Linked DNA regions of Homo sapiens: regions 1, 3 and 4 are each reported to be linked to region 2. The links are microRNA targets in miRTarBase. Many come from high-throughput screens and were not tested one by one. Region 2 holds a microRNA gene; each other region holds the end of a gene's coding sequence.

Region 1 (5,151 bases), not on the chromosome of region 2:
TATCTTCTACTCTGCTGTTAAAGAAAAGCATTGCATCGAAAACTCTAAAAGGACTCATCACTTTCTTGGGATTGAGATACGTAATCCTATTAGAATTCAGTCCAGATAATACAAAAGCAACTGAAGAACTTAAGTGTAGATTTCTGTGCCCCACCTATTGAAACAGAATCTATGGGGATGAGCATTAGTATGAGATCCTGTAGGTGATTTGAAGGAGGTGTTTTTCCCTATAAAGAGGTAATCTTTTTACTTTTAATCTATTTACTGTAGACAGTAACTGTGAAAAAAAAATCATTTTGGATACCTCAAACCAATTAATAGTGGACTTAGTTTATTTTATTCTGGCTTAGTTGAGAATACTTTTGAATTTCTGTTGAGTATATGAAAATCATATTAAAATGATTCAAAACATTTTCTTTCCACAGAACCACATATTCTTCTCTTTAGACGACCTCTTCCAAAAGATCAACAAAAATGAAGTTTATCTGGGGATCGTCAAATCTTTTTCAAATTTAATGTATATGTGTATATAAGGTAGTATTCAGTGAATACTTGAGAAATGTACAAATCTTTCATCCATACCTGTGCATGAGCTGTATTCTTCACAGCAACAGAGCTCAGTTAAATGCAACTGCAAGTAGGTTACTGTAAGATGTTTAAGATAAAAGTTCTTCCAGTCAGTTTTTCTCTTAAGTGCCTGTTTGAGTTTACTGAAACAGTTTACTTTTGTTCAATAAAGTTTGTATGTTGCATTTATCACTGTTTCAAGTTTTTGAGGTATATTTTCTTAATTTGTGACTATTGAAATTTGTGACTATTGAAATTGATTTCAGTGTTATAGTTTTAGCTCTGAGGAAGTTAACTTACCTTAAAGATGATGTTAAATGAGTTTAAAATAGTGCGGTATGATCTGGATACCATTTAATTCACTTAATGAAGAAATTAATTACCAGGGATATGTTTAAACTAAAGCCAAAGTAGATTTTACCTCTTGAATTCCTGGAGAATTGTCTAGAACAGGAAAGCCCAAATTAATACTATCTGGGCTACTTCACTGGCCACTGGTGGTCTTGGGAGAAACCTCTTTTTTATCCTCTTCTACATTTCCAAAGTAGGGATAATGTTTCCTATAAAGTATCACCACATTTTTAAAAGTTCAAAAACACTGTAAAACACCTTTGCCTTTTTAGCTGCTAGGAAAGTGTTTTGGAGTTATTCTAATTAATTGCTATGCTATAGAAACATCTTAAATGAGCAGCCAGCATACATCAGGTCCATTGGTTAAGAAAGGGTGTCTTTACACATGAGGGCAATAAATTTTGAAGGTTGTGATTAGCAGCATCCTAAAATCTACTGCCACTACCATAGGTTGTGTCCAGGGTAACCAACAGAAACATGACAAAATCAAGTAAACTTCATTACACTTCCGGGTAGACCCAATAGTGCTGAAAGGAAGGCGACAGCTACCCCTAAACTTCCAGCATAAATTCCTGCCAGACCAGACCCTAAGGATCACTTCTGCTAGAGGCTGTGTAGTGAACTGAGACCCACCAGGACAGAAATCTGAAAAAACTGGAGCTGCACCTGCCTTACTTGCTTGAAATACTTCGTATTCAATGGTAGAGTTAACGTCTGTGCAAGGGACAGAGGAAACCTACAATTTGCCTCAACCTAATCCCCATTCCTCAAATAGCCTGTTTTGCTGACATTTTCTGTTCCTTAAATCCACTTGCACTTTCCTCCAAGCCTTTGAGTGAGAGGAAAGTTCCTCCTCCATCTATTGAAATCCACTCTGCATTCTTCCCTGTACTTTTGGTCAACCTCCTATCCCTGCCGCACTTTATACATTTCTCTCAATATTTAACGAATTTGCTCTGTGTAGAACTTTTTTTTTCTCGTGAAAATTATACTATTCCATCTCTTGACCATATCTTAGCACTTTTTTTAATTTTTGAAAGAAACCGAGCGATTTTTAAATTATTTTCTGTGGCTACTTCCAAACTTAAGGTTTCTGGAAATTTAGGATACCATCAAGAGTCTTGTAGGCTTTCCAGGTTTGTAGGACCTACAGGGTATGCAATTCCTGTAAGTCACCAATCTTGGGGAAATTTTAGGGAAATGCAGTGGCGGGGGTGAGAGTAATCTCGGCCTCCTCAGTTTCCTTATTAGTAAATCTTTCTCTTCAGGTGACTGCTCAAAGGTCACCTCAGCGAGAGGCCTTTCCAGACTACCCCATCCCGTCCTAACGCTAGACTCGTGAGGCCCAGGGGAGAAAAGTAAATCACGGCCTAACTCTTGTTTATAGTCGCTACTGCCTTGGTGGAGACTATCTCCGATATCCCAGCACTAAAAGGCAGATCCAAGACTCCCGCAAGCTACGGTGGGTCCCCAGCCCAGAGGACTCCTGGGGGTCCCCATTTTCCGCAAGCGCCCCACTGCCTCCACGTGCTGCCCGCGCAGGTCCAGTGCCGCCGCCGCGTACTTCCGGCCGGAAGAAAGGGCGGGCTCTGTCGCTTTGCTGTGACGCACTTCCTGGCGTCGCCTGCGGGGGCGGAAACGCTTTGTCTGTCCGGCAAGCCGACGGCCCGCTGCTGGCCTCCGTGACGCGGCCTCCTCCGCGCCTCGCGGCATGGCGTCGGAGGGGCCGCGGGAGCCCGAAAGCGAGGTAAGGGCCGACGGGGGCTCTCTCGGCAGCCTCAGTCCGTCCGCCTGCCTCGCACTGGGGGCTCGGCCGGGCGGTGACGGGGCTGGTCCAGCGGGCGTGGGTCGGATGCTGGTGACGGCACGGGAGCGCCCTACCGGGTGGCCGCGATCTTCGCGCCCCGCCTCGGGTCCGCCTTGGGGTGGCGGTCAGCGGCTACAGACCCCGCCCACAGTTAGCGCCGCGTCTGTGGTGCGATGTCACCCAGCGCAGTGACTGCGGCCCAGCCCGGCGCTCCCCGCAGTCGGGGCGGGGGGACTCTGGCGAGCTTCCCGCGCTCTTGGGAACGGATAGATTGTTTTAAAGGATCCTGCGTTTTTCTGAACGTCATTCTCCGCTCTACGTACTCAGCATTACCACTAGATGGAGCCCTGGCGATCGCTTGCATCATTTTTAGACCCATAAAATTCTCGGTGAAAGTAAATCTCTTACTACGTCACTAAAAACTAAAGAAAGAAATCTTAGTGAATTGAAATTTCAAAGGCTCGTGGTGATAATATTTTCTAGCAAAGCAAGGTTTGGTATTTCAATAAAGCAAGACTTAGTGGTTCATGAGTAAAATGCATATGCTTTTGTGCAACTTTTTCAAGAAAATGTAATGGAAATAAACGTCTGCAGTGTGTTTTGGGTGCTGTAGTTAAACAGTCCACGTGTATTTGACTGCAGTAGTTGTACTGTGTGCAGTTCTATTATTTCTAAGTGAATCTGTGGTAAAAACACCCTTATTCCAAGATCTAAACTATATAATCTGTGTTGTTTTATTTCCACTTGAATTCGTTGTCATTTTTCACTTTTAATGTTTGAACTACTGCCTTTTCTACAAAAAAAAAAGCATTGGGGAGAAATCGTTAGCAAGCAGGTTCTTGTCTTTACGAGGCAGAAGTTTTTAAACAACATCGGGAACATTTCTGGGGCTATTAGGAACACCTCTTGGGTCTTTTTGTTTGTTTATATTTGCTTGATCTCTGAATGTTTGTGGCCAAAACCTCATATTTTTCCTCAGGGCATCAAGTTATCAGCAGATGTCAAACCATTTGTCCCCAGATTTGCCGGGCTCAATGTGGCATGGTTAGAGTCCTCAGAAGCATGTGTCTTCCCCAGCTCTGCAGCCACATACTATCCGTTTGTTCAGGAACCACCAGTGACAGAGTATGTATCTTTCTAAAAGTCTTACCTAGGGGCTTACATTTTGGATTTAATGGTGATTAGACTTTCAAATACTCAGCAGTTACTGCACTAAAGTTCTGCAGATGATGAGAGAATGCTCTTCAACCAAGAAGAGTCTGAGCCAGTAGCACAACTTAACTGTATCCTGTGCCAAAAACAGAAGCTTTAACTCCCCTTTTTTTTCTTCATACTCATTGTTATTTTCGGCAAAGAAATAGTAGAGACTGCATTGCATTTGTTAATAAGAAATGCAGTTTCAGGCCAGGCGCTGTGGCTCACGCCTGTAATCCCAGCACTTTGGGAGGCCGAGGTGGGTGGATCACCTGAGGTCAGGAGTTCAAGACCAGTGTGACCAACATGGTGAAACTCCGTCTCCACAAAAATACAAAAATTAATCAGGTATGGTGGCGGACACCTGTAATCCCAGGTATTCGGGAGACTGGGGCAGCAGAATCCTTTGAACCTGGGAGGCAGAGGTTGCAGTGGGCCAAGATAGCACCACTACACTCAAGCCTGGCTGACAGAGTGAGACTCTGTCTCAAAAAAAAAAAAAAAAAAAAAAAAATCCCGTTTCAAGGTTCATTTGTTCATATGGTTTAAAAATATATCATATATCTAATGGGAGATGAAATGTGGAGGGAAGGGCAAAGAAAGGACCAAATAAACGTACTCCTCCTTTTTAAGGTTAACATTTTAAAATCTTGTTGAGCGAAGGGGAGGGGACTAGCAACCATAGCTGCCTCTGTGTGGATAATTTTTTGGAAATTGTTGACTTTTGCTTTCCACCTTTTTACTTTATATCTGTTAATATGGAGATGAATTTTACACATTTCAGGCTTAAGTTCTTCTAAATTTGAGTTGAAAGAAGGCTTACATTTTTCCTTACATTTTCTTTTTCCTTCTCAGGATTCATTCTCTAGGTTTACAAAATGGCTTCCTCTTGCAGCTGAATTTAGACAAAAAAAGTATTAATCTTTCACATAATTGTGTAGATTTATTTGTAGATCTGTTTTTAAGATTTGCATCAGGTGTAGTTCTAATCTAAGAATCCTAATGCTTTTTTCTTCTTTGATATGATTCTAACTTGTTTCCTTTTATTTGTGCCTGCATGATGTAATTGAAAATAGTTTGTACTGTATATAAATTCTAGAATTATATTTGCAAGAATGAGAATTGTAATGAATAAGAAAATGATTGAGTTGTCTTTTGTGTTTAGGAAATACTGAAAGTTGTATTTTTTTGACGAAAGTTGAAACACTACCTTTATATGCTGGAATTTGGTC
Region 2 (5,151 bases):
GGCTAATCTTATTTTTTTAATGGAAAATTTCTAAAAGCAGAAAGCTCTCATACTCTATACTGCACTGTGGATTTTGTTCCCATGGACATTGGCTATGTAATTATATTTTATATTTGGTAGTGGATAAATAATTAAAATGAGAATTACTTTCCTGAAAAGATTCATTTAGAGCACACATTTTCTATTACCATAGCTGTTAGATAGGGGAGGGGACATTGCCTCCTACCTACCTAAACTACCTTGCCATTAAAGTATCTAAATTACCTCGGTGAATTCTGACCACAGAAGTGGTTGATGAATTGCTTTTGCATAAATGCGCTTTCCCTTTGCTAGAATCTAATTTTATGAAACACACTCATGTGTGTGCCCACATGCACACACACACTCACCAAGAGACACACATATACCAAAGCAACCACTGAACCCTCTCAAGAAGAAAAATTGAAGGCTGGAATTTTCTCTATATAATGAAGTTTTTTTAAATGTTGCCAGTAATATAAGCATTGCTGAGGAAAGCCCAAATGGTTTCATCTCCTGTAGGCAAGAGCAGTTCATGAATCATTGTTTCCATGCAAAAGTGTTTCATTCCTTTAACTGGTGCTATCAATTGTACTGGCTGAATTTTTTTTTTTTAAAGTATCAAAATTTGATTCTGGCTTAAACTCATTTCTTACAAGTAGGGAAAAAAATCTTTCTGCAGAGTAAGCCCAAAAGCCATTCCGTGGATGAAAGGGTCTGAAAATCCCATCCCTTTTGTCATTATGATGTGTTTAAAAGCTTTGATCCATCATAGGCAAGCCCAGCAGCCAAGGAGGGTTCTTAAGCAGCTATATCTCTCACTTGGCGCAGATGTATTTTTATTTGTTAATTAGAAGCATTTATTATAGTTGCCATGTATTCTTGCTGCATGTGTTAGACTAGGAAAGAATACAGTATCTGAGCCCCAAGATATGATGTGGTGGAATAATTCGTGTTAGGTATTATCTCAAGGTAGTGTCATTTTTGTTTGTGTCCCTGAGAAGGGAGAAGATGACTTTAGTCCCCCAGTGTCAAGGATAACCAGCCGTTCATAAGATGAGAGTTGGAGCAACTGCTCTAAGGAATCTGAAGACAAACAGGCTGGCGGAAAGGAAGTCACCTCCAGTGCTCTAAGTCAGAGCCTCTCTGATTCGCCTGTCTCCATTATTGCACAGCACATGATGAGTCTGACTTTGAGAGATAAGTTGGCCAAAGTGGAGGAATGCCACATGCCTAGGCCACTTTCTCTGCCTAACTTTCGATCACTTACCATGAACAAGCTGAAGAAACTTACTCCTCAAACTGGCCTTTGCTCAAGTTCATAAAGCACTTCAAAGAAAGAAAATGACTCCTGTATATGAATGTTGTTGCAATTAATAACTGCCCATTTTTTATTTCTAAGCTATCTTTAATTTGGTGGTTGAGGCCTATGAATATGCCCAAGAGATCATGAACAAGACACAATTTCTGCCTTCAAGAACCTTAAAATTGAAAAATCACGACGAAAAAAAACAAAGCCCTCTGATCTGGTTTGGATTTGTGTCCCCACCCAAATCTCATGTCAAATTGTGATCCCCAGTGTTGGAGGAGGGTCCTGGTGGGAGTTGATTAGATCATGAGGCGACATCCCCCCTGCTGTTCTTGTGATAATGAGTAAGTTCTCACAAGATCTGGTTGTTTAGAAATGCGTAACAGCTCCCTTTTTGCCCTCTCCCTCCTGCTCTGGCCTGCTTTCCCTTCGCCTTTCGCCATGATTGTAAGTTTTCTGCAGCCTCCCCAGTCATATTCCCTGTACAGCCTGTGGAGCTGTGAGTCAATTAAACCTCTTTTCTTTGTAAATTACCCAGTCTCAGGCAGTTCTTTATAGCAAAGCAAGAACAGACTAATACACCCTCTACCCAGTCTCTCAGTCTATAATCCCTCTTGATGTCACGCTGCTGCAAGTGAGGATGAGAAATTGGAGAACAGGTGTGTGTCATTCACGATGGGCTTCATCACAGCGTCTACCACAGCGTATTTTGCTACACTGACAGCATTACCATCACTTATGTGTACTGATTTATATGCCAAAGAAAGATCACTGGGGTGTGGTGTGTACCTTGCCTTATATCACCAACATGTAACTTTGATATTTCTTCTTCATAACAAAAAAGAAAAATTATTTAATTTCTCTAATTTTTGTTACAAAGTAAAGTAACATCCTACAAAGCAGGTTTTGATCATTTCTGGCAGCAATCAGTTTTCTTCTCTACTTTAATTCAAGAGTAAATTTTGTTTTCGAATGAATGAATAAGTGAATTGTAGCTGGTACTATGATCCACCCACCTGTACTTCTTTTTGACTCTGATAGTGAATAGAAGTTTACAAAAGTTTACCCTCCTAGTTTGGCCTTAAAAACATAGAACCTTGGTTTCAGGGCTATTTGACTGCTGCTTTAGCTAAACAATAGCAATAATTAACCATTACTATGTCCCATGTCATAGGTACCATGCCTGGCACATCATTTGCTGTATCTCATTCAGTGTTTGCAATAGCCCTTTGAGTTAGGTATTGTTATTTTTCCGTTTTACAAAGAGAGAAGTAGGATTCAGCAAAACTCGATAACGATCAAATGCTACAAAAACAAAAAATAGGTTGATTGCTAGCCTATGGATTGATTTCCTTTGGGTCAGGTGTCCACTCCTGCTCCAAAAATCCATTCAAGGATACAAATCTGACCGCCTCCAAATGCAATGTCTCTTATCTCTGCCCAGTCCTACTTCATTGATGGTTCACATTACTAAGTTCCCTTGATGTGGATTATTCTCCCTGTTAATTCTCTCGGTCCTAGAGTGACAATTGTACTTCCTTTAGCAATTAGAAAGCAGTGGTTTCCTGGGCTTGCTTCATCACCTCAAGCAAGCCTGTTAGCTACTGCTCTTAGCAGGGGAACTGGGAACATGACGAATGATGGCCATCTGCTCCAGGAATAAACAAACTCTTCATTATTCCATTAGTGATTTTCCATTTCCTGCTAAGCCTAACAATTTATTAGCACTATTTAGGCTAATGTATGGCTGTATTATTTTACATAGTTACTTCATATTCTTCATGTGATGACATATTTAGGTGTTCAGATCCTCTGTGTGGTTTTCTGCAGACAGAATTGGATGAGTTTGAGAAGATAACTCTCCCAGCACTGGTAAGACCACCATTAATTCCTCTTTGTGGAGCAACTTTTCTCCAAGGATTTTAAAAGAAATGACCGCATGGCCATTGTGAATCAAATAGGTTTGAAATGCAATGCATTAGGAGGAAACATTTATGTGTGCTTCTCAGTCACGCTACACTGAACATAATTCTTAGGGTTGTGTTGAAAGCAGCACTAGACAAGGCCCCAGGACCCCAATTTCCAGCCCTCTACTCTGTAGGGTTTTTATGAAAATCAGCAAAGGCATGTAGGTGATGACTCTGAAAAAGTGACTCTTATCCAGACTCCTTTAAAAGAAACACCTTTATTGCAAGATCACACGTGGACTGGAATTGGAAGAAGAAAGCAAAGTCCCAGGGGATAGAGAACACTCTAGGTCTCCTCTGGCCACCTCTCTCTCTCCTTTTCAGGTGACATGTTCTTGCTCCCATTGTGTCTGTTCTCTGTGACGTTGCTGTCCTCTTGCTGTGGCCACTGCTCTCTCGACACTGACCAGCTTCTTTCTTCCATCTCTTCCAAGATTCAGAAAATGGTGGCCAAGAAGCCAAATACAGCCTGAAGTTGTGCTTTATTTGGCCAGCTTAATATTTAGATCAAATTTTGAATTTGAATGTTTTTGGCAAGGCATGTATTAATTTTTGCCACTTAGTTGCAAATCCGTACATTTACTTTTTTTCAGATGAAGGCATTCAAGTTTAAAACCACTTTATATATTTTCTCTACTTCCTTATCCTTATTCATAGTTTTCGCTACTTCTTAACTTTCTATGACTTCACATGCTGTCCACCCATCTAATAACGTGCTCTGCTACAATTGTATGTCCTGTCACTGCTAACCCTCAGTTGATCTGTTTATCTCCATTGACATTTCTGAGAAAGAACACTGCTGTCCCATATGACATAATAGGTCATTCCAAGACATCACTACTGACATGTGTATTGTAAGTGGAAAAGTTGTAGGGTATCCATTATTATTATTGTTATTCTTATGTGGTAGTATATATTAGGGCCATATAATAACTCCAACTCCAAAAAAATTTCTTTCCTGGCATATGTGATGATTTATTGCTTTGGAGTTTATCCAAAGACCTTAGCTAAGAAGCACAGCAGTTAAGCTATGGACCCATTTTTTTTACTGATGTGAACATACCCGTGGGTCTTCTGTACACATCTGTGAGGCAATAGTTTCAGGTTCAGACAAACCACTCAGGTTCTTAGTTGAGTGAGGTAGTCTGTAGGCAGAGCCAAAGCACCCTGGAGATACATGGGCAGGCACAGGTCATTTGGGGCTACCTTGAAAAGAGTTTAAAAAAACTTTTGGATACAACAAAGCCATCAGTGTTGAAGAATGTTATGTGGTCCTTACTTATGCTTACAAATTTGGCCCCTTCTTCATCTTTGATACACCTACCTTCTATTCACTCAGTCATTTGTCTGTTTTATTCTGTTCCAACCTCCTCTGCCAACATGGACTCAGATTAAAAATAAAATGAAGACAAATAAGGGAAAATAGACCATTTTCTGCTTTCTGCCAGGTCTAGGCACCAAGGCTGAATGTGTCTCTTTCAGTATCTCATTTTATAAAGAGATAAAGACCACAATTATCAGAGAAGCCAAACTACTAGACTGAAAGATTTCATAAATATTTAGACTTAACTAATAAAGTAGCATATGTTTACAAAGAATATAGTCTTGGAGATCTCATAACTAGAACTAATTAAGGTTGGGAATTAACTTTGGAAAGAACTCAAAAGCAATGAAAACAATTAGACAAATGATCTCTTAGTCCAGAAGATGCAAGATTTTGCAAGTGGCTATGACTCGGCCAATGTCTCTTAAGCTTTCTACTTTAGACATTGTACTGGAAGCTCAAGAGGCCAGATCTTAGCCCATGAGTTATCTGCCTTGGAACAATTCTAAGGGGTGTCATGAAGATAAAAGAGA
Region 3 (5,135 bases), not on the chromosome of region 2:
TCGGGCCTGGGAGCGAGGCAACCCTTATGTGGCTGTCCTGACCCCTCTCCTCTCTCCACCCAGGGTCCTGAGTTTGTGCGCAAACATATCTTCAACAAGCATGCAGAGAAAATTGAGGAAGTGAAAAAGGAAGTCGCGTTTTTTAACAACTTCCTCACTGATGCTAAGCGCCCAGCTCTGCCTGAGATCAAGCCAGCCCAGCCACCTGGCCCCGCCCAGAGTAAGATACGATCCATGAAGGTCGCATGTGCCCTCTTCCTTGACTACCCAGGGACTCCTGTTTCTCTTTAACGTGTCACCCCGAGAAGTTTCTGCCCCATCCTCAGGCCATAGCCCTAGAAGTCAATTGTACCCGTATCCCCCTCCCCGCCCCCGCAGTAATTCATGTCCCTGTCCGTGTTGTACTCCCCCCAGGTTTGACCCCAGGACTCCCCTACCCACACCAGACTCCCCAGGGCCTGATGCCCTATGGTCAGCCCCGGCCCCCGATCTTGGGCTATGGAGGTAAGTACAGGAGGGAGATGAAGGGGCTTGGTGAGTGTGTGGCTTTGGGAGAAGAAAACAGAGGATGGAATTGAGGACATAGTTTTGCAACTCAACACTGATCTCTGTCATAGCTGGTGCTGTCCGCCCTGCAGTCCCCACAGGAGGCCCTCCATACCCCCATGCCCCGTATGGTGCTGGTCGAGGGAACTATGATGCCTTCCGAGGCCAGGGAGGTTATCCTGGGAAACCTCGCAACAGGTGAGGAGGGCAGACGCCCAAGCTTTGTTGCCGCCTGCAGACTCCCTTTTGGGAGCCCTCAGCTCTCATCCTGTACCTCTCACCTCACAGGATGGTTCGTGGAGACCCAAGGGCCATTGTGGAATATCGGGACCTGGATGCCCCAGACGATGTTGATTTCTTTTGAGCCGTCCCCCGTTCCTCAGTCCTGTATCATCCATACTTGTACTACCTTGTCCTATGAAGCTCTGAGAATTTTTTGTACGATCAGCCTTACTGCTAATAAAAGCACTTCCACAGGGCTCCTGACTCTCGTGTGTTACATAACTCCTCCATCCTTCCAGAGTAACTCCTGAGGTGTTGCTCAGCCCTGCCACTTTTATTATTGATGTCAAAAGCGCCAGGCTTTGCAGGGACACCAGTGGGAGGTACATAGGTGCGTGTCTGGGACCCGAGAATCTCAGTTCTGTAACTTCGTCCTCAGTCCAAGGTGCGCTGCTGCTGTTGGGAGCTAAGGCTGGTCAAGCACAGGTTGTAGAAGGAGTTGGGGTCAAAGGCTGCACTCACCTCTTGCCAGCCCACCCACCCAGCAGCCTGTAGTTCACTGGGGCTTTTTGGAGTGCCCCAGTAGTGAGGGTCCAATACCAGGACATAGGCTTCCGTGCCTGACCCTACGCAGACTCCCAGCAAGGCCTTGGACCTGGCATCTGCGTCCCCCCCAACCATGACTGGGCCCCCACCCCCTGCGAAGTGCGAGTAAAGCCTCTCCAGCTCCCCGTGCAGCCCCACTCCCCGGGGTACGTGGCAGAGGCGTCCCTGGGGCCCTCCGAAGTGAGCGAGGCAGAGGCTGGCCTCCACGCAGCCGATCCAGTCCCGGGAGCCCCGGAAGCCGGGGGGCTTGTCGCCCATGTCCTCCAGGGCCGCCTGTACGGCGGCCAGTCCAGGTACGCCCGCGGGCTGGCCCTCTGGCCACGAGCACAGCGTCTGCAGAGTGCGGTAGCCGCAGCCCCAGCCGCGGTCGTCCAGGCCGTCGCAGCCGTAGTGGTAGTAGAGGTAGTGGCCCGAGAGCAGCGCCAGGCGGACAGGGCCGCGGCTCGGCGGGGACAGGCCCACGTGGACGTCCCTCAGCGGCTCCAGGGCGGTGGGCGGGAGCGGAGGTCCCAGGCCAGGCACAGCGTCCTCCTAGCGGCGCGGAGCGACCTCAGGCTCCAACACTTCCTTTCGGCTCCGGGTCTTGGGCCAGCTGCCGCAGGACCGGCGCGCAGACTGGGGACGCGCTCCCCGGGCCTCGTTGATCACCGCAGGCCGCAATAGGCAGCCACCGACCGGCACCGACCGAGGAGCTCCCACAATGCTCCGCCGCGCCCCGCCCCGCCCCGCCCCTCCCCTCCCCTCCCCTCCCCTCCCCTCCCCTCTCCTCCCCTCCGCCGTGCCAGCTAGCCTGCCTGCGGGCCTCATTACGCAGGCGCGAGCTCCGCCCGGCAGGGCAGGGCTAGGGGTTGGCCTTTGCCTTGCGCCCGCCTCGGAGCTCGCCTGTTTCTTGCCCTCCAGCCCCGCTCCTGCATAGACTCGGCCCCCGTGATTCCGGCGTTCTGCCTCTACCCCTGGCTCCCTAGTCGCGCACACTCCCGTGGCTGTAACAGTTTATTGGCAGCCCAGAGGGGCGAAGGCACCGCGGGGGAGGGAGCTCAGCCTGAGACATGCAGAGGACCGGGAGCCCCGGGGGACGTCGGGGTGGGGTGGGGATGGGCAGAGTCTGGGGCTCGTCTGTGTTATAGCCCAGCCCTGAAATAAATAGTATATACAGCTAGGGGGCCGGGCGGAGCGGAGGACATGGGGGTCCCGCCGGGGTCACAGGTCTGAGCAGCGATCCTGCTTGCTGTAGTGGTCGAACTGGTTCTTCCAGTGCACCATGTAGGAGCTCCAGCGGTGGAACTCGGCCTTCCACTGGCGCTCCGCCTCGTCGAGCGTGTCTGCGGCCAGGGCGCCCAGCGAGGCGGGAGGGGAGGACGGCACGAGGAAGGTCGGGGATCGGACATTTGGGCGGGTTGAAGGGGGGGTATGAGTGCAGGGAGGACGCACGGAGAAATGCAGGCGACCACGTGGGACGGTGGCAAGAGGATCAGGAGAATGTGCGAAAGACGAGAGGGAGGATGAGGGCAGAGGCGGGGCCGGAGAAGGACAGCAGGAAGGAGAGAGGAGGAGAAAAGAATGACCGGAAGACGGGAACAGAGGGGACAGGAGGGGGAGGTTGGGGGAAAAAGAAGAGACAGAAATGGTTGACCGTTATAGCCCCAATGGGGGGTGCTACCCCGTCCGGGGCCTCCCACTTCCCCCCAATGTCAGGCTCAGGTTCCAAAAGATAATTTTATAAAAGAATACTGGCTTTTCCATTTCCATTCAAACAACAAAGGCGTGGGGGTCCCTGAGAAGGGTGGGAGGCACGGCCCCCTCCTCCTGCCCTGTCCAGTGTGAGTCTCTCGGTTTGAGGAGGAAGGGAGCACTAGGTCTGAGATCCCTGAGTGGGGCCCTTCCCCACGGTCCGACCACTCATTAGAGGAGGGGCCCCTGTGGCCGTAGGGGAAGAGGCCGTGTTCACAGCCGCCGGAGGTGGGAGAGGAAGAGGAGGAGAAGCTGGTGGAGGAGGAGGAGGGGCAGGGGGAGGCCGGGCCTCGGAGCAGCCTCCCCATGGGTGAAGCCTGGGCAGGTGCTGGGAGCCTCCGAGGCTAGGGGGAGAAGAGAGGGGTTACACCTGGCGGGCTCCCACTCCCCTCCTCCCAGCCGCTGCCCGCTGGCCCCTGCATACCGGTGGCGCTGAGCAATTTGGGGAGGAAGCGGTTCCAGAAGGCGCAGGCCTGGGCGCGCAGCCCCCGCCGCACCTCCAGCGGCCGCAGGTCCAGACTAACGTACTGCTGAGCCCCCGCCGTGTACGGGGGCCATTGTGGGGCCTTGGGGTCTCGGGGCTCATTGGGATCCCTGCGGAAGGAAGGGAAGGCTCAGTCCAGACGGGCAGTGGGAGGAGGTGGCCCCCAACTCCACGGGATCCCGGACTCTTCAGCTCAGCGGAGAGCCCCAGAGAACCCGTCCCCTCCCTCCCACCACTTTCTCCAATGTGCGCGGTCATTGGGGTCTTCCCTTCCTCAAGCGCTCCGTCTCCTTCCGTTTCCCTCAGCTTTTCTGTTCCATCTTTGTTTCTCTCACTAAAAAAATGGCTAGGATGTCTTGAGACTTTCCTAAATAACCAGGACGGGTCCTATGTCTACAAACATCACATTTTTTAACAACACCCATCCAATGCTAGATTTCATTGTCCTCTTCTCGATCCAGGTAAACTGGTGTGTGTGTGAGAGAATGTGTCACTGCTAGTGAATCATCACTGGTTTGACTTAATCCAGCTCCAACTCCTTTGTCTTGGTCTCCCTTTTTTTTTTTTTTTTTTTTTTCCAGAGATAGGGCCACTCAGGCTGGAGTGCAGTGGTGCCATCATAGCTCACTGCAGCCTCAACCTCCCAGGCTCAAGCAATCCTCCTGCCTCACCTTCCCAAGTAGCTGGGACTAGAGGCACGAGCCACCGTGCCTGGCTAAGTTTTGTATTTTTTTTCTTTTTAAGAGTCGGGGTCTTGTTATGTTGTCCAGTCTGGTCTCAAACTCCTGGCCTCAGGGGATCCTCCCACCTTGGCCTCCCAAAGGGCTGGAATTACAGGGGTGAGCCACTGTGCCCCGCCCCCTCCATGTCTACCTCGTCTCCTCCTCACTTTCCTTTGCCTCTGTCTCTGCAAGACCCCCTCTGCCTTCTCTGTCTCCTTTCTTTTTCTCTCCCCTTTTATCTACTTTGTGAGCATATCCCTCTCTGGCTGTTCTATCCTGCCCCTGTCCCACCCGTCCTTTCTGTCTCCGTGTGTCTGCCTTTGTGTGTCCTCCCGCCCCCGACTCCTGTCCTCCCCAGCCTTCTCTCCCTCTGCACTGCTGACCCTGTGCGGGCAAAGTTGGCCCAGTATCGCATCAGTCGCTGGGCGAAGATTTTCTCCTCTGCCGTGTAGTTTCGAGAGGGGTCCAGGGGGATCCCAAAGATGAACTCGATCTCGTAGCCGTGGGGCACCCCCATCCACAGGGGCCAGGAGAGCGTGGAAGCACGGTGTTCAAAGACGTAGGCGTAGACCCGGGCACCCTGGGCAGCCAGTCGCCCAGCCAGCTGGGCCACGGGGCACACGACATTGTGGTCGCCCACCACATCGCTCAGGGCCTCCCTCAGGCGTGCCGGGTCCTCGGGATGCAGCCAGTCTGTGTAATGCAGGACCACAGCCTCGGCTGCCAGGTCACTTACCTGGGGAACCCCGACCCGCACCCCGGCCAGGAACTCGGCCCGGCTGATGAGAGACTCGTTGTCTTTGCTGAAGCCTGGGGCCCCGTAA
Region 4 (5,151 bases), not on the chromosome of region 2:
GTTGTTGGGGGAAGTAAACTCTTCCACTTGTCTGCTCTGTGGTGTTATGATCCCAAAGCTTCCAGGGACTACAAAAAGGGAGTTTAAAATTGAAACTGTGAAAGTAGAATCAGGCTGGATGATGGGAAGAGACATCACGTCCTGAAGGCATCACTGAGCCCTGAATCAAGTTATGCCTGAAGATGATGTATTCCTACTCTTCTAGTAAATGAGTCCATTCCTAATCTTTTAGTACATGAGTCAGTAAACGCCTTTCTTTTCCTGTAGACCAATTTGAGTCAGACTTTCTGTCACTCACAATTGAAAGTCCTAACTTCAAGGATCCTACACTTTCCTTCATAGCACTGGTCCCATGTGATGTTACTATTACTTCAGTGCCAACCTCTCTCAGTAGACTGTAGTCTGTATGCAAACAGCAGCAGTATCTCATTTGTTCAGAGCTGCATTTCCAATACCTAGAACAATTCTGACCCATTATTGGTACTTGATCATATTGAATTACTGAATAAATAACGCAAACCAAGTATTTTCTTAGCCATGTTCCCAAAGGTATGAATAAATTAACACTATGGAGCTATTTTTATGTGCATGAAAGTTGTTTCGAGATGAAAATACATACATACATATAGATGTATATATACAGTTGTGCACTTAAATTTCTATATAGTAATCTTCCACAGAATCAAAGATTGCCTGTGATCTCTGATATGAATGAAAGCAATGCCTCTTTGTTCTGTGAACTTGGAAAAACTATTTCTCTGAGTCTCTGTTTGCTTACCAGTGAAAAGTGCTTACCTCAAGGTAGATATTTGTAAACAGTAGTCTCTCGGTAAACAGAATTCTTACTAGTACAAGGAACTAACTAGATAACCAGAAGAGAAGAGAGAACAAATAGTCAGTTCAAAACCAAAGTGTTTGCATGGACAAAAGCAAAGGCCAGGGCTGCATAACACTGACATTTTTATTAGAATTCATTTGTAACAAATGGAACTTGTGTCAGCAAAGAACTGATTTTCATACAGACTTCTTTCGCCACCAATGTAACGAAGTAAGAAAATAAAAAGCACGCCTTTCATTCTGTAAAACATTTACGCGTACTACTAATTAGAGGTAATTGTATTTTTTAACAAGCCATTTTACAAGTTATTTGTTTTAATTTTTCAGTCTATGCATCCAAAACGAGAGCAAAGAACACAACTGTTATTATCTTTGTAAAGACACTCCAAGCTGGGATGGCAAAGCCACATAACGGATGGATAGAATGGATCTGTAGCCTTCTGATCTCTGCTGGAGTATCAGGGCACCCATAAACCCAAAAGGAACCAAAACCCAAAAAGAAAAACAAAAAGGGAATTAAAAATAAAAGGACTTAAAGCAAAACCGAAAATAAACAGGAAAGAAAAAAAATACGTGCATTACTGCAGACTTTTTTCCCTTCCTGTTTCTATGTTGTGTTATTTACATACACACAAATGAATTTCCGAAGCAGTTTCTTACAGATGGGTTCAAGTAATATCATTATTGGGTGTAGAATCAATAGGGCAGTGCATAGTACAAAGGTATAGAAAGTGCAAAGTTCCCTAGAGGCCCTTCCCTCCCCTGGCTGTCCTCGCCGTTTTCTAACCATGCAAATCATTTTTAAAAAAGAGCTAAAATAAAGTTCTGTACAAATCACTTTTTATATATTTTGATTTTTTTTACCATTGTAACTAATTACAAAATTATACATAACTACACGTACATAGGTAAATAATAGCACCGTACTGGTTATGATGATGAAAATAACTGGAAACTTGAAAGCTTGTGGTAATGGCAGATAAAGATGGTTCACCTGGGAAATTAAAACTTGAATGGTTGTACAGAAAAGCACAGAGTGGAATGCACATCAATGACAGTAAGGGAGTTAGTTCTAGGAACAGCTCCTGAACAGTAAGATTCCCGCAATAGTCTCCGCCTCGTTCGTCTATGGTATGCATCCCATTCATTTTCTTCTTCTGATTATTGTCATCTTTCCCTTTGCCAAATGGGCAGTTATTGTTTCAGGGAGAGAAGCTGCTCATTGGCCAATCATTCTGGTGTGCAGTGCTCCATCGGATTCTACATGTCCAACAAGGCATGTCTGGATGATGCAATGTCTGTCTGACCCCCTTTGTTTAACTAAAAGAAAATTATAGCACTGAGTAATCTGGCACTTGGATAAATCTCCAAAAAGATACAAACTAAAAGAAAATAATGATAACAGACCCACATAGTGCACATTCTTCTCTGGTTCTGATGTAGGTTAGAGAGTCTCATTCTGAGGTAGCCTTCTAGATACTTTTTTTTAGTATTATATATATTTTCTTTTTTTTCTTTTTCTTTGTTTTTTACAAAAGTGCTCAAATACAATGCTTGCAAATGTTTGGTCTCTTGGATTTCACTCTGCTAGCAATGGGAAAATGTGGAAAACAAAAATCCTTCCATGCAGAACATCCATGAAGCTAAAATTAAACCAAAGTAGTATACTCATACCAAAACTCTTTAAGAGTTCCTTGGGTATTTTGAGGATTATTTAAAATCATGTAATATGTGGCAAACTTATGCCATCATCCATGGCTTCCTATAGAAATTCTGTTGGAAGAATTGGGGGTAAGATACATATATATATATAGTTTATTTCCCCTTTTAGAAAAATCCTAATGGAATATCAAATATATTCCAAAGTTGCCAATGATATTTGTTACTAAAATAAGTTTGGTGCAGTTACTGCATGTTCCAGAGCGGATTTGGAAGGGAATATAAATAAAACAAGTAGCTTTTTCTGATGTTGATGATTGATTATAAAAGGAAGAAGGGCCCTGATTATCCAAGTGCTTTGGGCTGGTACAATCACTAACATCCCCGACTTGGCTGAAAACTAGGAATGCATATTATTCAAAGAGTTTTTGTACATGTGGTAAACAGATAATGCTTTAATAGAAAGTAACAGATACGAACAGTGAATGGAAATACGAACCAAAAGCTAAAAAGAAATGCTATTAAAATAGGCATCAATTATAAGGCACTCTAAATGCAAAACTAAAACCAAAACGAAACAAAGTACAGCACTTCCCAGGAATGCTGTATGCCACAAAATGTTTCTGACTGAACAGAGTAACATGAATTTGGCTTTGCCCCTGTTACATATCATAAATGCAAATTTCATAGCACATACTATAGACAATATACGATTGAATACACTTTTTTTAAACAACTCGATAGCTGATATATTACAACATTCTCCCCTCCTAAAGGGATATGCACTGACCTTTCCCACATGCACACCTCTTAGCTATTTAATAATAATTTTTATTGCACTAGAGTGTTAGAAATATTGAACTTTGTTGGAAGCCTGACTAACAAACAAACAAAACAATTTGTGGATGTGATTGATTGGTTAGGTGGGGGTAGATTAGGTAGGAAATCAGGGGGTGAGGTTTGACAATCAATCACTGATGTGCATTCCTCATTTCCCTTTAAAGAAATACCAATATGTCAAAAAATTAAGAATAAATGGAAAGAGATGTTTACAATAGCTTTTCTACGTTTAAAAAAACTAAATCATGGAAGAACTGACTGACTGATAACTGTATCTATTTTTTGTGTGGACACACTGTCTATATATACATAGACACCCTTATAAAATATGGATATATATGTATATATGTTAGCAGCAACTTTATACTTTGCGCCTCCCTGTTGATTCCAAAAACAAAACAAAATAATAATTATCTTTGATTATTTGAAGAGAATGGGTACTTTCTCACCAATCAAAACTGAAGTGTAAAATTAATATATCTGACGAGACTGATACTGTAGATTGAGTTTTGCACAAAAATGTGCAAATTTTCAAATGATTTGATATTTCTACAGCAAGATATTACAGATAACAGTTCTACAGCTTAAAAAAACCTACGATTTGGAAATAAAAAAATGAAGAGTTATGTAACTTTTTTAAAATTCACTTTATCGAATGATACATTTTGTTAAAAAAAAGTTTACACAGTTAGAAATGAAGCACAGGTCAGCAGTATCTTTACAATACTAAAAAACTAAATCAAGGACTTTCTTTTTAAACATTCCCTCCCCTTTCCCCCTAAAATGTTATTATGAGCAGTATGGTGGGAAGGGGCGATGTCAAAGCAGAGTCCGTTTCATTGTGAGAAGCCACACCAGCACATATCTTGTGCTGAACTGCAGCATTCTGGCAATTTCTCCTTGCACCTTTCAAGCAATCCTGAATAAGATGGTGGTTCTTTGCTGTGATTTCTTCTTCCCTTGATTTTGAATCCTTGAGGTATCTGTAAATAAAATCCTTCAGATGCCTCATCAGTCAGGATTCTCTTCATTATTTTTCAGGTTAGATTATTAAACTGTGAATTCTTGGTCCACCTGGAATAATTTGTTTTTAATTTGTTTTGTGTGTAATAGTCCCACTAAGTAGTTGTTAGCTAGAAGTTAAGAAGGACTTCTCAAGTGCCCTGTATGGCTCAGAAGAGACTCCATGGATATTGAAGGGCCTGTAGTAAAAATCCAGAATGGGTCAGGGGTTTCTACGTTGCATAGTGGTCAAAGCTGCCCAGGTACTCTAGTGCGGCACGATAGGAAAACTGATATTGATCCTGCAGGAGACAATGAATGGGGAGAAGCAAAAGAAGGGACCATGAGCATATTTTAATAGAAAAATAAAAATCAATATTGCATAACAAAATAACATCTATATAGGGGCAAAATCACTACTTTCGTCAACTGGTCTAATCCAATGACCAATTGTTTATAGTGAACAAAGAAAAAGCCACATGGGGTGTTGATTAACTTTGCCAATCAATTTGACTAAAACGATCTCCCAATTCCAAGCAGTGGCAGGTCGAGTGAACATTACCTTCCCAGACAAGTGTTTTCCAAGTAGTATCAAACCATTACCACCAATTGAACACATAAACTTCTTACATGCCTTATAAGCAGATAATGATGAAAATCATCCTTTACAATTATCTGCTTATTCAAGATAACTAATTCTCAGTTTAAATATTTAAGAGAGGCTGATACAGACACAAACTGTCCTGAGAAAAATCTGAATTTACTTATCTTCTGAACTACTGCCAACAGAATTTGAATTTTTAAAAAATTATG

The links. The annotated mature microRNA hsa-miR-1246 reads AAUGGAUUUUUGGAGCAGG and lies in region 2 at 2,700-2,718, opposite strand. An mRNA with a match to its seed (bases 2 to 7 or 8) in the 3' UTR can be bound and repressed. Matches are read on the target gene's strand: a 7mer-m8 pairs with bases 2 to 8, a 7mer-A1 pairs with bases 2 to 7 and ends in A, and an 8mer does both.
Region 1: the mRNA of CKS2 is a reported target of hsa-miR-1246. Seed matches in the 3' UTR shown: 7mer-A1 at 575-581.
Region 3: miRTarBase lists SRRT as a target of hsa-miR-1246. Seed matches in the 3' UTR shown: 7mer-A1 at 939-945.
Region 4: the mRNA of PTPRD is a reported target of hsa-miR-1246. Seed matches in the 3' UTR shown: 7mer-A1 at 3,664-3,670.

What each region holds. Positions count from the first base shown.
Region 1 is chr9:89,315,948-89,321,098 of GRCh38, forward strand. CKS2 (CDC28 protein kinase regulatory subunit 2) reads left to right here. Exons shown (of 3, transcript NM_001827.3): 3 at 426-756. The coding sequence ends at 478. SECISBP2 (SECIS binding protein 2) reads left to right here and starts at 2,553. Exons shown (of 17, transcript NM_024077.5): 1 at 2,553-2,665; 2 at 3,705-3,850. The coding sequence starts at 2,630. RefSeq lists an enhancer at 2,203-2,422 and a silencer at 2,593-2,912.
Region 2 is chr2:176,598,325-176,603,475 of GRCh38, forward strand. MIR1246 (microRNA 1246) reads right to left here and starts at 2,728; the gene lies at 2,656-2,728.
Region 3 is chr7:100,887,640-100,892,774 of GRCh38, forward strand. It overlaps SRRT (serrate, RNA effector molecule), which reads left to right. Exons shown (of 20, transcript NM_015908.6): 17 at 64-220; 18 at 403-504; 19 at 618-744; 20 at 835-1,025. The coding sequence ends at 910. It overlaps UFSP1 (UFM1 specific peptidase 1), which reads right to left and starts at 2,076. Exons shown (of 1, transcript NM_001430944.2): 1 at 1,082-2,076. The coding sequence starts at 1,860. The coding sequence ends at 1,204. It overlaps ACHE (acetylcholinesterase (Yt blood group)), which reads right to left. Exons shown (of 5, transcript NM_000665.5): 3 at 4,695-5,135; 4 at 3,530-3,699; 5 at 2,355-2,696. The coding sequence ends at 2,575. RefSeq lists silencers at 2,100-2,149, 3,241-3,398, 3,470-3,519 and enhancers at 2,569-3,302, 3,020-3,079, 3,303-4,035, 4,316-5,055, 5,056-5,135.
Region 4 is chr9:8,313,303-8,318,453 of GRCh38, forward strand. PTPRD (protein tyrosine phosphatase receptor type D) reads right to left here. Exons shown (of 46, transcript NM_002839.4): 46 at 944-4,640. The coding sequence ends at 4,572. Among named protein-coding and RNA genes, the nearest start is that of DMAC1, 520 kb to the left of the region's middle.